Regions from separate parts of the Homo sapiens genome. Here region 2 is linked to region 1. The links come from fine-mapping of genetic effects on gene expression. Tissue or cell type: whole blood. Region 1 holds a variant in brackets; the other region holds the start of a gene. Each region is shown on its reference strand, or each on the opposite one. Region 1 holds the start of LOC107986482 (a long non-coding RNA gene). Region 2 holds the start of MKNK2 (MAPK interacting serine/threonine kinase 2).

Region 1 (2,982 bases):
GCCATGAAGAAAGGCATGCAAGATGGACTAGTTTAGTGTGCGTGAAGATGGAGGGACTATCCAAGGAGGTGACATTTCGGCCATGACTTGCACGCTGAAAAAAAAAAAATCCAGTCATGATTTCCAGAGTCATGAAATCCAGAGCATTTCAGGCAAAGAGGCGAAGGCCTTGAGGGGAAATGCCATTGGTGTATTAGGAGGGAAAAAGAAAGAGAAATAATGTGTGAGTAGAGAGAGAAGAGGTAGGAGAGGCAAGCAGGGCCAGATCACACAGACTGAAAGTCAAGGTGAAGTGTTGATAAGGAGTGTGGATTTCCTTCCAAGTGCTGTAGAAAGCTACCGGGTTCTATGTAGGCAATCATCATACAGTTGACCTTCAAACAACACAGGTTTGAACTGCACAGGTCCACTTACAGGTGACTTTTCTTCCACCTCTGCCACCCCTGAGAGAGCAGGACCAACCACTCCTTTTCCTCCTCCTCAGCCTACTCGAGTTGATGATGACAAGGGTGAAGACCTTTATGCTGAGTCACTTCTGCGTAGTGAACGTAAATATACTTTCTCTTCCTTATGATTTTCTCAATAACATTTTCTTTACTCTAGCTTCCTTTATTGTAAGAATACAGTATACAATACATATAACATACAAAATATGTTAATTGACTGTTTATGTTCTCAGCAAGGCTTGCAGTCAACAGTAGGCTATCTGTAGTGTTTTGGGGAGTCAAAAGTTGTATGCAGATTTTCAACTCTGAGGGGGGTCAACACCCCAACTTCCATATCGTTCAGGGTTCAACTCTCTTTATGTATCCGGAAGGAAATACACCAACAGGTTAGTAGAGATTATTAACAAGTAGTGGGGTAATAAACCGTGTTTAAAAATCTGTGTGCTATTCTGTAACTCCTGAACTTTTGTAATTAGAAACAAACAGTAATTTCCATTTTTAAAGAACTCACCAGAGAGCAACATCGACAGATGACAACCATCACCTGGAGCTCCAGTTTGAAGAGGCTTTTCCCTGAGCAATCTCTTTTGATTTTCACGATAACCCTGTGAGTGAAGCCAGACCATTGTCATTAAGACCTCCATTTTGGAGGTGAGGCAATTGAGGCCGGGAGTTGCAAAGAGGCTGAGGCAGGAAATGACAAAACTGGGACAGGAATCAAGGTTCCACA[A/G]CACTGGTCTAAGCTTCCTGATTTTGTGGCCCAGCCAGGCTAATGGCTGAGTCTGCATCAAATTCACCCAGAGACCCCAGGGCCCTAACAGGAAGTCTACAAGGTTACTCTCCTGCTTCGGGGAGGGCAGGGATGGACCTAGAGCCCCCAGCTGCCGATGACTGGAACAAAAAGAGGGTCTTTCCCACATAGTAGATGCTCAACAAACATTTGTTGAATTAATGCAATAGCTTGCTTTTGGGGGAAATGCCACCTTGGGGAGGATGGTTTTGCTGACTTTACAATTTAGTAGCTGTGCATCCTCCTCTGTCACTCCCCTCCACAAAGTTGGAGTGTAGGCTCTGGAGCCGGAATGTCTGGGCTTGAATCTGCCTCTACCACTGACCACCAGCTGTGACCTACCCTTTCCACCTCAGTTTTCTGATCTGTAAAGTGGGAGTAATAATGATGGTCTCCTTGGGTTACTGTTTGGATTAAATGAATGAATGAAGGCTTTGAAGAGATGTTGGCATACAGTGTGTGCTCCATAAGCGTCAGAGGTTACTAGCATCAGCATGAAAGGGCTGTTGAAAGGGTGAGGTGAGGCTCCTGGCAGCACAGGCAGAGCTGAGCAGGGTCTCAATGGGTGATGGCTACCGCGGCTGTCCTTCTACCCCCATGACTCCCCTTGCTGGTGCCTCAGTGGTTATTCACAGGAAACATACAGAAATGCACTGCACATCATTTTTTAGAGAAGGGACACCCCTATCCACCAGAAGGGTCCTTTGCCAAGTCAAATAATAGACCTGTACTCTCTCATCTCAGGAGGTTTCTGTCTGTTCAAGGTCACGTGAAGAATTTCCTGGCACTTTCCAGTGTCTCTGACTCTAATTCATTTAAAGAGCCACCTTTTAAATTTCAGGCTTGACATTTGCTTAATAACATGTGTGGAGCCTGCTCTGGTGAGCGGCCCCAGGGTCACCAGCCCATCCCTCTGTCCTCCACTCCTGCTTTCAAACTTCAATGGTTTAAGGTCTACCGATAATTTTGCTATCACTGCATATCATGTGGTCTAGTCTTTCCCTCATTATTTTTCCTCAACTTGTCTCCCATTTAAAACTTAAAATACATTTCTTCAAAAGGAAAACTTACTACCATAGATGGAAAGCCAATCCCACCTGCTACAAATAGAAGCTATCCAGAAAAAGATATACCACGAAAATAAAATGATATTATGAAACTCTAGAATATTTAATTCTAGAGGAATAGGGTTGCCTGTGGAAGACTCTGGGCTTGAGGCCTGTTTGATTCCCATTTGAAAGGGAGATTTGGAGAGGTGTTAAAGTTTGAGGGAGGCGTTAAAGACCTATTAGTACCAAAGTGAGATTTTCTTCTTGGTGTAATGACAAGGATTGAAAGAGAATTTTCACAGGAGAAAAACTCTCTTACCACAGGATGCAATCTATTTGTTTCCCTGTCTTTTCACTTTCCCCTACTCCCCAGGGGCAAGGGGCTCCCTATTGTATGATTCAGTTCTTTATTGAGAAGAGTTAAAGAGAGAGCAGCCCAGCCCCAGCTTCTTGCTTATTATATCATGCAAATAAGATTCTTTCCCTGCTTTGAAATGAGGGAGCCGAATTAGAGAGATGTTCTTCTCAGAGGATCTCCAGGCCCTGAAAGTCTGCGAGGCCCCATCCAAAAGTTCATTTGGCTGCTGTCTTGGTCATTCCAGGCTGCCATAGCAGAATACCATAGACTGGGTGGCTTATAAACTACAGAAATTTATTCCTCGCAGTTTTGGAGGCTGGAAGTTGAAGATCAGTCACT
Region 2 (2,724 bases), not on the chromosome of region 1:
GTTGGCACCTGGAGCTAACGTGTGTTTGTGCGTGTATGTGTTCACACGCACACACACGCACCCACATGCACAATAAGGGGGGCTGGGGGACCTGGTTTTCTGTCCCCCCATTGCCAAGAGTCAGGGCAATGCCAGGTGCTGGGCTGGGTTCTGGCTGGGAATTCCCCACAGGCTTCCCCCCAATGCCCCGGGGGTGGCTGAGGCCAGGCCTCCCAGCCCCTGTGGCCTGAGAGCTGTGGCCTTGCAGGCAGGGGCCCTCCAGCTTCAGGTCAGTGGGGCTCCAGCCCCTCTTGAGCTCAGGGCCTGGTTGGGGGATGGTGGGATGGGCTGTGCGAAGCTTCTGGAAACCCCTGCAGAAGAGGAGACCACAGTCCACCCAGCAGGGGAACCCCCACTCCTTGTGTGCCCCAGGCCCGGGGCCTGGGGAGCACTTTGAACCAGGATGCTGTGGGATGGGGGACTGGCAGCTCAGGACAGGCTGATTCTATCTAAGCCTGGTTTGGGGCCCCAGCCAAAATGGGACTGTGTTTTACTTCCTGTCCTGGCGACCATCCACCCCTTGGGCTCTTTCCCAGTGGGTCTCAGGTCCCAGTTCTCCCTGAAATGCTATTCGAGGACAGAGGAAGGGTCCTTCACAGACCTCGGTCCCCACCCTCTACTCTGGTTCCTGCCAACCACAAAGCAAACTCGGGGAGCTCAGTGCTCCCCAGGCAGGGTGGCCCAGGGGAAGAAGAAAGTAGGTGGCGGTGGCTGGTCCCCCAGCACTAGAAGGGAGTGGCTGGGACTCCAAGCGTGCTGGTGGTGCACGAGGGGGACTGCTGGAGCCAGCACTGGAGAACTGCAAGAGGGAGCCATGGCAGGTTCTAGAGCGAGGGCATGAACCAAGGGAGTCGGGGTATACTAGGCCTGGGTTGACAGGCCAAGGGAGTTGCCCTGTGTGGGGCCAGGCGGTAGGACACGGCCCAGGGCCTCGCAGGTCCCACGGGCCCCGCGAGCCTCAGGCGGCAAAAACAGGCCAGCTCCGGGCGCGCCGCAGGGTCGCTGCCTAGGTTCCGCACCGAGACCCCCGTGCGCCGCACTGCGCAGGCGTGCGCTAGCCGTTTCGGACACGCCCCACCGCCGGAGCGCGCAGCCGCACTGGGTTCCCGGAGAGCGCCCTCTTCTGGCTCCGCCCACGTCGTGCGCAGGGGGTGAGGCCGGGCGGAGCCTGCGTCGGGGGCGGGGCCAGAGCAGGTCCGGGCCTATAAAGGTGGCGGCGGCGGCGACGCGCCCGGCTCCTCTCAGCGGCGGTGGCCCAGGTAGAGGGGTCCGCGCTGGCGGCGGCGGCGGCGCTGTTCCCCGCGCGGTCCGCGGAGCGGGGTCCGGGCTGCGCGACGTGGGGCGGCGGCGGCACTGCGGCCCCGGCCCAAGCCCGACCCCGGTGAGTGCGAACCCCAGGGCGGCCCCGAGGACACCGACCCGGTAGCGGGAAACGGGCCCCGCGGAGCCCTCGCCGCCCCCGCCCGGTCCGCGCTCCTGGCAGGCCGGGCTCCGCTCACCGCCCTCCCTTTGTCTGCTCCCGCCCGCAGGGTCCCCTCCTCGGCCGCCCCCCGCCCGGCCGCCCGCCCTCGGGCCTCCCCCCGGGCCCTCGGTCCCCTCCCCCGCTGGCGGGGCCCGGACAGAAGATGGTGCAGAAGAAACCAGCCGAACTTCAGGGTTTCCACCGTTCGTTCAAGGTGAGGCCCGGGGTCGGTTTGGGGGCGCTCCGGGCTGGACCACCGGAATGGCCGGCGTGGGGGGCGCGGGGCCCGCCCCTAAGATCGGCTCCCGGGGCTCGTGCCTGGCCCCCGCCCTACACCCGGGGCTGCCCGGGCCGGCCGTGCGCTGAAGCGGGGTCGGTGTGCGAGGATGGGGGTTCAGCAGGCCACAGTCCTCTCTCCAGCCATGGCCGCCGGGTCCTTCCTCCAGGACCCCCAAGTGAGGCTGGGAGCAGGAGCCCCCTCCGGGTCAGGGCACCAGGCTGTGTGTCCCCTGCAAGCCCCCGCCGGGTATGTTCTGGGGGGTCAGCAGGCTGCAGTCCTGTCCCAGTCGCTGCATGTGGCTTATGGGGGGTGTCCCCTGCAAGCTCCAGCTGGTTGTGCCCTGGTGGGGACGGGTCAGCGGGCCACAGTCCCATTCCCACCTCCATGTGGCTTCTGGGGACTTTCTTTCAGAATCCCCAGGCCGGGCTGGTCAGGTGCACCCACCCCCAGGGGGCCTGTGCCGTGGGGGAGGGGATGGGATGTCCCCTCAGCCCTGCACTTCGCAGACACCCCAGGCCCAAGTGCTGTTTCCTGTCGGAGCGGGAAGTTTCTGCGCAGCCCGGGTGGTGACTGCTGTTGAGTGCTGGTTTCAGATGAGCAAATCTTGGGGGGGAAGGGGAGGGCAGGTGCTGGGCAGGGGCCCCGCAGGACCTGGCCCAGGGGACGCAGTGATGTCAGCCGGCCCGCCCCACCCCTCAGGCCGGGGTTATGTAATCGCTTCACTGGGCTTCCTTGGGCAGGGACCTGTTGCCCGGTAGGGAAGGCAGGACTGGAGAGAGGAAGAGAGAGTGTGAGTGTATGTGTGTGTGTTTGTGTGTGTGTGTGTCTCTGTCTTGTGTGTACACACAACGCGGTGCTCCAGGGTGGGAGGAGCAAAGAGAGACTGGGAAGAATTCCCAGGTCTGTCCAGCCAGTGCCCCAGGGCAGCACTCCACCCCTGCCA

What was found. PIP is the estimated chance that this variant, and not a neighbour inherited with it, causes the effect. A credible set is the group of variants that fine-mapping cannot tell apart.
Region 2: it holds the start of MKNK2, and the variant in region 1 is the best candidate, but not a certain one, in a credible set for the expression of MKNK2 in whole blood (TOPMed, PIP 0.74).

What each region holds. Positions count from the first base shown.
Region 1 is chr5:173,776,417-173,779,398 of GRCh38, reverse strand. It overlaps LOC107986482 (a long non-coding RNA gene), which reads right to left and starts at 1,123. Exons shown (of 2, transcript XR_001743004.2): 1 at 958-1,123. RefSeq lists enhancers at 334-553, 379-673, 430-1,629. The variant A/G (reference allele first, on the strand shown) is at 1,177.
Region 2 is chr19:2,049,792-2,052,515 of GRCh38, reverse strand. It overlaps MKNK2 (MAPK interacting serine/threonine kinase 2), which reads left to right and starts at 1,272. Exons shown (of 14, transcript NM_199054.3): 1 at 1,272-1,420; 2 at 1,569-1,715. The coding sequence starts at 1,665. RefSeq lists silencers at 1,098-1,637, 2,368-2,557 and enhancers at 2,128-2,187, 2,364-2,724.